Linked DNA regions of Homo sapiens: region 2 is linked to region 1. The links come from fine-mapping of genetic effects on gene expression. A gene starts in region 1. The other region holds a variant in brackets. All regions are shown on one strand. Distances are between the middles of the regions.

Region 1 (5,387 bases):
GCAACCTCCACCTTCCGGGTTCAAATGATTTTCCTGCCTCAGCCTCCCAAGTAGCTGGGACTACTGGCGCGTGCCACCATGCCTGGCTAATTTTTGTATTTTTAGTAGAGACAGGGTTTCACCATATTGGCTAGGCTGGTCTCCAACTCCCGACCTCGTGATCTGCCCACTTTGGCCTCCCAAAGTGCTGGGATTACAGGCGTGAGGTCACTGCGCCTGGCCAATTGGGCTTTTATTGGAGAAGAATGAATATCTATAGTGACTGCTTGTAGAATGAAATGTTGTTTCAAGCTTTTTGCCCCCTAAAGATGAGAATGGTAATATAACATTTGTGTACTGTGAGTTCTAATTGGGATAAATAAAATACTAGAAATAGAATCCCAGACCCAGGAAGAACCTTGTCTTCAGAGGAGCAACCTTGGTCCCAGCCCCTTCTCCACAGCTGCATGAAGAAGCTGCACAGAAAACCACTCACCCTCACCCCTAGAAAGTACTCTTCCCAGCCCCTAGTAACCACTATTCTACTCTCCACTTCTATAGGATCAAATTTTTTAGCTTCCACATGTGAGTGAGAACATGCAGTATTTATCTTTCTATGCCTGGCTTAGTTCACTTAACATAATGTCTCCCAAGCTCATCCATGTTGCCACAAATGACAAATTTTGTTCTTTTTAAATCAGTAAATAGTATTCAATTGTGAATATATACCACATTTTTCATCCATCTTTCTGTTGATGAACATTTCGGGTGATCCATATTTTGGCTATTGTGAATAGTGCTACAGTAAACATGAGAGTGCAGAGATCTCAACAAGATTCAGTAACCTTACTACTGAGTATATATCCAAAGTATTTTATTCATTTTGATGCTATTATAAATGGAATAGTTTCCTTAGTTTCCATTTTTGGATTGTTTATTGTTAGTGTATATAAATGCAACTGATTTTTGTGTATTGATTTCCTGTCCTGCAACTTTGCTCAATTTGCTTGCTTATTAGTTCTATTGGGGTTTTGTGTGTGTGTGTGTGCATGGTATCTTCAGGTTTTTCTACATATAAGATTTTATCATTTGCAAACAGACAAAATTTTACTTATTTATTTCCAATTTGGATCCCTTTTACTTATTTTTCTTGCTTAATGTTACTGCAGCTTTCTATGCAGGAAACGAGGATTTGAACAGTGATGGAGAGATGAGTAATGGTTCGATTTGGAACATATTTTATGGGCAGAACAAATGGAACTTGTTGGCTCAGAAGTGGGTGGTGGAAGAAAGAGGGAAGTTAAAAGTGACTTCTAGGTTTATGGATGGATGAACTGGCTAAATTATTGTGGTGCCATTTGCTTAGACAGGGTAGATGGGGGGATGCAGGACTAAGAGAGGAAGAGAAAAGCTCCACCTGGGCCACATTAAATTTGGCCATGATTGTGGATCAGATAGGTAAAAGCAAGAGAAGGAGGGAAGAAGTCAGAACACAGACCTCTGGGGAAAGCTCACACGTAGAAAAGGGGTGGAAGAAGAGGCATCAGAAAGAGAGGCAAAGAAGAGCAATCTGAGGGGTAGAAAAAGAACCAGGAAAGTCAGAGAAAAAAGGGAAAAGTTTCAGGAAAGTGGCAATGGTCAACTATGCAAACAAGAGGGGAAGGAAGGTGAGGACTGAGAAAGGATTTTTTATGTAAGCAACAAGGAGGTTTTTGGTGACCTCTGACAGAACATTTTCAGCAGACTGGATAAGGTCTCTGCCTGAGTGCAAGTGAGCTGAAAATGCAAGTGAGTGAGGGAAGTGCTTTAAAAAAGTCTAAAGTGCTATGTGTGTAAGGCAATGTTGCTATTTCTGTTGCCATGGAAACAGAAACCATTTAGGAGAACTAAAAGCCACTTAAAATTCCTGACTCTAACCCATCATATCCGCTTGATCTCTTGAGAAAGATAATGACAAAAAACCAGTCATTAGAGGGGCAGGGCAATTTTAGGTTTCTTCTTTTTAGACATAGCCCCTAACTGGAAATTTTCACCCTTCTTGAGAAGGGAGCTTGCACTAACATCTACAATGGCTTCTAAAAAGCACAGATGACCTGCTACACTTCCTGACTTGCTTGCTATTGGTTGGCACTGTTCATAAATATAATTTGCTCTTTCACTTTTCTTTGAAATGAGCAACCTGAATTACTCGGAGGAGAAAGGCAGGAGAGATAGAGGCAGCAGAAGCCAGGGCAGCTGAAAGACAGAGACCTTCAGGTGGGCATTTTAATCTTTGTTTTGTTAATTCAGTGTTGAGCATCATGACTTGATGATCACATAATAGTCAGAGGAGTAATTTTTTAAAAGTAAATTTGTTTTGTTCTACTATAAATGTTATTTTCCTATCATGTACATGGTAGTTTAAAAAATACTGTGGAAGTATAAAAATGTTGAAAGAAGCCAAATTCTCCACCAAAATAGCCTCTATTGATATTTTGGGGATCGTCCCTTTGTGTGTGTGTGTGTGTGTGTGTGTGTGTGTGTGTGTGTGTGTGTGTGTGTGTGAGTGTGTGTGTGTGTGTGTGTATGCACATATAACTTTAGTTTTCATAGTTGCGTCCCTACACTATGGACAAGTTTGTATTCATTTCCTCCATATCAGTCTATGGTTTTTCCATGTTGCTGTGAATTCTTTGTAATCATAAATTAAAGCTGCTGCATATTATTGCATTGAGGAACTTTACTATACTTCCTCCATTTTTGGCTGTTATCCTCTTTTTCATAGTTTGGGTCCTTCTATTATATAAGATATATTTTTTCCATTCAGTGTCTTGTTTTAGGGGTAGAAGAAGTTAAATCTGAGCACATATATTTCAATGGTTTTGCTCAGAGGCACAATGAGAATGAAAGAGTATGTGAGATCATGAGCATATAATCTGTTCCTTACCCCACTGGGACCCTAATCAGTGTTTCTCAACCCTGGCTGCACATCTGGCCAGAATCACCCGACTCTGAGGAGATTAGAAAATTACCCCTAGAATAACTGAAGCTTAACTTTTGGAGATCAGTGAGTCATCTGCAGTATTTTATCTTGTTTTCCAGAAACTTCTCAGGTGGTTCTAATGGGTGGTCAGCATAAAAACAGATGACCTAGGTCATTCAAAATATTTTTCTGTCTCTGAAATATACCTGAGAGTAATATGTATTAGGAGAAAGGGAGGTATAATTTAAGGCAAGCCAACCAAATCTCCCTTTCAACACTACATAAATAATGCAAATTATAAAATAATTTGTGGGAAACATAAGACTTCTAGAAATTTCTATCATCTACTCAGCCACATAAACTCTTGAGATAAGAATCTACTTGTGTTTCGATTTACTAATGTTTTAAAGAGATGGATTTGTTTCCAGTGCTTCGGTGGTTAAAAGTTAGAGAAGTTGAGGCTCAAGTGTGTTCTAAATGTATCTGAATCACGCCCATATCTGCTAGAATCTACCAAGGCAGCCAGGCTTCCTTTTAAAACTCTTCAAGATTAAACACAAGGTGGGCATTTAATAGCTGGCCAGTTCACTAACACACTGTGGGCACAGCGAAGATCGATGGGATTGGATTTGGAGGCAGAAGGTGGCTCACTCTGGCTTTCAGGAGCCACATAGACATGGCATTTACCTTCTCTGGACCTCATATCCTCAGGAGGAAAGTGGATAGAGTTTATGCCAGGGCTGCGTTCTGGTTTCTCCCATCAGGGACTGAAAACAGAGCCACAGCGCCTAAACCACACTGAAGCATTTGCTGTTGCACTCAGCCTGCTACAGGCTAGGAATCATCCCAATGAGACCAACAGCATGTTAATCTAATTTCTTCTTGTTTTGACTCAGTGGAGAACACCTGTTTAGTACCTTCTTTAATGAATGTAAACATTCACATAGTACTTTACTATTTACAAAACATGTTTACAGGCATCAGTTCATTTGATCCACATACTAGCCTTAAGAACTGGAGGATGTAATTCTTATTTTAAAGATGGTAAAGATGAGACCAAGAGAACATAGGATCTTTCCCAGGTGGAACCAGAACTGGTCCAATCTGGTTGAGCCCAGGGCACATGGTCCTTTCTTACAACTTAAATAATAGCTATTGTGGGAAATTGGTTAAACAAATTTCATAATGTTTATATAATTGGCTATTCTGTATCCAGTTAAATGATGACATTGATGTTGTTAGTTGGCAAAGAAAGGTGATCATGACACGAAATAAGAAAAAAGCAAGATACAAACAGCATTATAAGTGTGCTCATTTTTGTTCAAAAATATTTGTATATATTTCAAGAAAGATAAAAAAACCATATATGCAAAATTTTAGCTATGTCTGGTTGGTGGTAAAGTTCATTATTTAAGTTTATTTCAGCTTGTATTACATTGTAATTTTTTTTTACCATGAATGTGTACTACTTGTGTAATAAAAATAAATAGAATTGTTCATGTGTTTCTGGTTGGCTCTTCTCCAGATGAAATGGCCCCATCTTCTTTCACTTGACCATAAAGAAGGCTCCTGTTTAATTATCTGAGTTTTGTACATTATTGTCACAAATCTTATTGTGATTGTTAGCTAGTACTGACTGAACTCTTCACATGTGTTGGGCACCAAGTTAATCACTTAACATCCATTTTTTTTTCATCAATACTCACTCCAGTGCTCCTTTGGCAGATGAGAGTTTGAAGCTCAGACGGCTGCAGTAATAAAAGAGACTAAAAGGCAGAGTTGAAACTTAAACCCAGGTCCCTTTTAACTCAAAAGCACATGCTTTCATTCATTATATCACTCTGCCTCCTATCCACCTGGGATCACATGAGCAGCCTCCATTTTGGAGGAAAGATGATATATTTTTTCAGTGTACTCATTGCTGTGTACATGAGTACATGATGGTTACCTTGGGCATCGTTAGCATTTCCTGTGTACTCCAGAATCAAAGATCCTTTCTGCTTTTCTATAGTTTGCTCTGTGCACCAGATATCTGAGGCACTCTAGTTCCCCAAGGGTAAGCCTTTAAGATAAAAGCCTCACAAGGGATTGTGCAATTACCCAATGAACTCTGGCTAATGCGGCAGCCAAATTGGATAATACAAAGAAAGGCAAGCATTTTGCTGTGGGTGCTCAGCGTTGCTAGAGAGCTTTTTGAAATCCATGTCAGAAACCCCTAGCACTGTATTTCTTTATTTCTCAGGGTATTGGCCACTGCCTCCTTTGTACTGCAGTTACTTATGTACAGTATGTTCTATTGGACCAAGACTCTGACATTGGAGTCATTGCATAGAACCTAGCACATAAACTCCATTGAGAATAAAGGCATTGTGTAAATAAATCAATTCACCCAATGAATGCAGACTTTATTAGTTACAGCTAATGTTTATCTCTGTTGAACTTTATT
Region 2 (5,387 bases), 43 kb after region 1:
GTATGCATCATTACTGAGTCAAGGGTACTTGCTTAAGGCAGCAAGGACTTTTGAAGAATCTTGTGAAACTCCATTTTTGTCAATCCTTCAGAGCCCAAGACCACCAGAAACCCTCCTGTAATGGAACAAGTTGGCTTTATTACTAATTGCAACAAGGCTTTTGAAAGCCTTCTGTCATCTTCCTGGGGATCACCTCTTCAGGTGTACAGAGACAGCATAGGTAGGTTGTGGGGGAATGGAGAGGAAGGGGAGCTTCCCTAAGTGAAAACCTAAGTGTTTTCCTAAACACAAGCACCACTGAGCAGTTTGTAGATGGAATTTTGCAATCAAAATTGCAGGGTATTCTGTTCAAGCCACACCTTTTTTTCCCCTCCATTTGGAGATAATTAAAAATTCCCATGCACATGTAAAAAAAAAATAGAAAAATCTCTTGTACCCCTTCCCGCAATGGTAACATCTTGCAAGACCATGGTATATCAGAACCTGGCATTTTTTTTTTTTTTTTTTTTTTTTTTGTCAGAGTCTCACTCCATCACCCAGGCTGGAGTGCAACTGTGTGATCACAGTTCACTTCAGCCTTGATCTCCTGGGTTCAAATGATCCTCTCATCTCAGCCTCCTGAGGAGCTGGGACTACAGGCATGCGCCACCACGCCCAGCTAATCTTTTTCATTTTCTTTTTTTTTCCTTTTCTTTTTTTCCTTCTTTCCTTCTTCTCTTTCTTCTTTCTTTCTCTCTCTTTTTCTTTTCTTTCTCTTTTTTCTCTTTCTTTCCCTTTCTTTTTCCTTTCTCTTTATTCTTTCTTTCTTTCTTTCTCTCTCTCTCTCTTTCTCTCTCTCTCTCTCATAGAGATAGGGTCTCAGGTCTCACTATGTTGCCTAGGCTCATCTCAAACTCCTGCACAGCCCAAATATTGACATTAATACAGTTATGATGTAGAACATTTTTGTCACCATAAGGATGCCTCAAACTCCACTCTTTAGCTACCTCTACTTCCCTCCAACCCCCACCACATTCTTAATCCCCGGCAATTACAAATCTGTGTTCTCCATTTCTATAATTTTGTCATTCAAGGATGTTATATAAATGGGATCACTCTGTATGATTAGTTTTTATTTTCACATAGCATAGCTCCCTAGAGATTTATTCAAGTTACCAAATGTATTAATGGTTCACTCCTTTCATTGCTGAGCAGAATTCCATGGTATGCATGTACCACTGTTTAACTATTGAAGGCTATCTGAGTTATTTCCAGTTTGGGGCTATTACAAATAAAACTGCAGTAATCACTGACTTATAGGTTTTTATGTAACCATATGTTTTCATTTCCCTGGGATAAATGCCCAGGAGTATAATTACTGGAATGCATGGTAGTTGCATGTATAGTTTTTTAGGAAACAGCCAAATTGTTTTCCAGAATGACCGTATCATTTTACACTCTCACCAGCAATGTCTGAGTGATCCAGTTTCTCTGTATTTGATGTAGTCGCTATGTTTTATTTAGCCATTCTAATAAGTATGTAGTAATACCTCACTGTGGTTTTAATTTGCATTTCCCTAATGACCAACAATGTTGAACAATTTTTTATGTGCTTATATGCTATCTGTATATCCCCTGAAATGTTTGTTTCTATCTTTTGCACATTTTCTAATTGGAGTTTTTCATTTGTTTGCTTGTTTTACTGTTGATATTCAAGAGTTCTTTATATATTCTAAATAACCCTGTTTTGATAAGTGATTTGCAAATATTCTCTCCCAGTCTGTAGCTTGTATTTTCATCCTCTTAGCAGAGTATTTTGTGGAGCAAAAATTTATCATCTTGACAAGCTCCAATTTATCAATTTTTTCTTTTATGGATCATGTTTTTGGTGTCAATTCTAAGAACTCTTTGTCAGTCCTAGATCCCAAAAATTTTTTTCCTAAAAATTTTATAATTTTACATTCTAGGGAAAACTAGGTTCCAAGATGGCTGAATAGGAAGAGCTCCAATCTGCAGATCCCAGTGTGAGCAACGTGGAAGACGGGTGATTTCTGCATTTCCAACTGAGGTACTGGGTTCATCTCACTGGGGCTTGTCAGACAGTGGGTGCAGCCCATGGAGCAGGGCGGAGCATCGCGTCACCCAGGAAGCACAAGGGGTCAGGGAATTCCCTTTCCTAGCAAAGGGAAGCCATGACAGATGGTACCTGGAAAATTGGGACACTCCCACCCTAATACTGTGCTTTTCCAACTGCCTTAGCAAACGGCACACCAGGAGATTATATCCCGCACATGGCTCGGAGGGTCCCACGCCCGGCTCGGAGGGTCCCACGCCCACGGAGCCTCGCTCACTGCTAGCATAACAGTCTGAGATTGAACTGCAAGGTGGCAGCCAGGCTTGGGGAGGGGCATCCACCATTGCTGAGGCTTGAGTAGGTAAACAAAGCAGTTGGGAAGCTCTAACTGGGTGGAGCCCACCACAGCTCAAGGAGGCCTGTCTGCCTTTGTAGACTCCACCTCTGGGGGCAGGGCATAGCTGAACAAAAGGCAGCAGAAACTTCTGCAGACTTAAACGTCCCTGTCTGACAGCTTTGAAGAGAGTAGTACTTCTCCCAGCACGGAGTTTGAGATCTGAGAATGGACAGACTGCCTCCTCAAGTGGGTCCCTGACCCCCGAGTAGCCTAACTGGGAAAAACCTCCCAGTAGGGGCCGACTGACACCTCATACAGCTGGGTGACCCTCTGAGATGAAGCTTCCAGAGGAAGGATCAGGCAGCAACATTTGCCGTTCTTCTATATTTGCTGTTCTGCCGCTTCCACTGGTGATACTCAGGCAAACAGGGTCTGGAGTGGACCTCCAGCAAATTCCAACAGACCTGCAGCTGAGGGTCCTGACTGTTAGAAGGAAAACTAACAAACAGAAAGGACATCCACACCAATACCCCATCTGTAC[G/A]TCACCATCATAAAAGACCAAAGGTAGATAAAACCACAAAGATGGGGAGAAACCAGAGCAGAAAAGCTGAAAATTCTAAAAATCAGAGCGCCTCTTCTCCTCCAAAGGAATGCAGCTCCTTGCCAGCAACGGAACAAAGCTGGACGGAGAATGACTTTGAAGAGTTGAGAGAAGAAGGCTTTAGACCATTGGTAATAACAAACTTCTCCAAGTTAAAGGAGGATGTTCTAACCCATCACAAAGAAGCTAAAAACCTTGAAAAAAGATTAGACAAATAGCTAACTAGAATAAACTGTGTAGAGAAGTCCTTAAATGACCTGATGGAGCTGAAAACCACAGCACAAGAACTATGTGACGCATGCACAAGCTTCAGTAGCTGATTTGATCAAGTGGAAGAAAGGTTATCAGTGATTTAAGATCAAATGAGTGAAATGAAGCAAGAAGAGAAGCATAGAGAGAAAAAAGTAAAAAGAAATGAAAAAAGCCTCCAAGAAATATGGGAGGACTATGTGAAAAGACCAAAACTACGTCTGATTGGTGTACCTGCAAGTGACGGGGAGAATGGAACCAAGTTGGAAAACACTCTTCAGGATATTATCCAGGAGAACTTCCCCAACCTAGCGAGGCAGGCCAACATTGAAATTCAGGAAATACAGAGAACACCACTAAGATACTCCTCGAGAAGAGCAACTCCAAGACACATAATTGTCAGATTCACCAAAGTTGAAATGAAGGAAAAAATGTTAAAGGCACCCAGAGAGAAAGGTAGGGTTACCCACAAAGGGAAGCCCATCAGACTAACAGCAGATCCCTTGGCAGAAACTCTACAAGCCAGAAGAGAGTGGGGGCCAATTTTCAACATTCTTAAAGAAAAGAATTTTCAACCCAGAATTTCATATCCAGCCAAACTAAGCTTCATAAGTGAAGGAGAAATAAAATCCTTTACAGACAAGCAAATGCTGAGAGATTTTGTCACCACCAAGCCTGCCTTACAAGAGCTCCTGAAGGAAGCACTAAACATGGAAAGGAACAACCAGTTCCAGCCACTGCAAAAACATGCCAAATTGTAAAGACCATCAATGCTAGGAAGAAACTGCATCAACTAACAAGCAAAATAACCAGCTAACATCATAATAACAAGATCAAATTCACACATAACAATATTAACCTCAAATGTAAATGGGCTAAGTGCTCTAATTAAAAGACACAGACTGGCAAATCAGATAAAGAGTCAAGACCCATCAGCGTGCTGTATTCAGGAGACCCACCTCACATGCAGAAACACACATAGGCTCAAAATAAAGGGATGGAGGAAGATCTACCAAGCAAATGGAAAACAAAAAAAAGCAGGGGTTGCAATCCTAGTCTCTGATAAAGCAGACTTTAAACCAACAAAGATCAAAAGAGACAAAGAAGGCTGCTACATAATGGTAAAGGGATCGACTCAACAAGAAGAGCTAACTATCCTAAATATATATGCACCCAATACAGGAGCACCCAGATTCATAAAGCAAGTCCTTAGAGACCTACAAAGAGACTTAGACTCCCACACAATAATAATGGGAGACTTTAACACCCCACTGTCAACATTAGACAGATCAACAAGACAGAAAGTTAACCAGGATATCCAGGAGTTGAACTCAGCTCTGCGCAAAGTGAACCTAATAGACATCTACAGAACTCTCCACCCCAAGTCAACAGAATATACATTCTTCTCAGCACCACATCACACTTATTCCAAAGTTTACCACATAGTTGGAAGTAAAGCACTCCTCAGCAAATATAAAAGAACAGAAATTATAACAAACTGTCTCTCAGACCACAGTGCAATCAAACTAGAATTCAGGGTTAAACTTACTCAAAACTTCGCAACTACGTGGAAACTGAACAATCTGTTCCTGAATGACTACTGGGTACATAACAAAATGAAGGCAGAAATAAAGATGTTCTTTGAAACCAATGAGAGCAAAGACACAACACACCAGAATCTCTGGGACAATTTAAAGCAGTGTGTAGAGGGAAATTTATAGCACTAAATGCACACAAGAGAAGGCAGGAAAGATCTAAAATTTACACCCTAACATCACAATTAAAAGAACTAGAGATGCAAGAGCAAACACATTCAAAAGCTAGCAGAAGGCAAGAAATAACTAAGATCAAAGTAAAACTGAAGGAAATAGAGACACAAAAACCCTTAAAAAAAATCAATGAATCCAGGAGCTGGCTTTTTGAAAAGATCAACAAAATTGATAGACTGCTAGCAAGACTAATAAAGAAGAAAAGAGAGAAGAATCAAATAGATGCAATAAAAAATAATAAAGGGGATATCACCACTGATCCAACAGAAATACAAACTACCATCAGAGAATACTATACACACCTCTAAGCAAATAAACTAGAAAATCTAGAAGAAATGGATAAATTCCTGGACACATATACCCTCCCAAGACTAAATC

What was found. PIP is the estimated chance that this variant, and not a neighbour inherited with it, causes the effect.
Region 2: its variant is fine-mapped to the expression of CYSLTR2 in whole blood (TOPMed, PIP 0.93).

Annotation. Positions count from the first base shown.
Region 1 is chr13:48,651,783-48,657,169 of GRCh38, forward strand. CYSLTR2 (cysteinyl leukotriene receptor 2) reads left to right here and starts at 2,147. Exons shown (of 5, transcript NM_001308476.3): 1 at 2,147-2,235.
Region 2 is chr13:48,694,580-48,699,966 of GRCh38, forward strand. CYSLTR2 (cysteinyl leukotriene receptor 2) reads left to right here. Exons shown (of 5, transcript NM_001308476.3): 4 at 1,947-2,047. Among named protein-coding and RNA genes, the nearest start is that of CYSLTR2, 43 kb to the left of the region's middle. The variant G/A (reference allele first, on the strand shown) is at 2,932.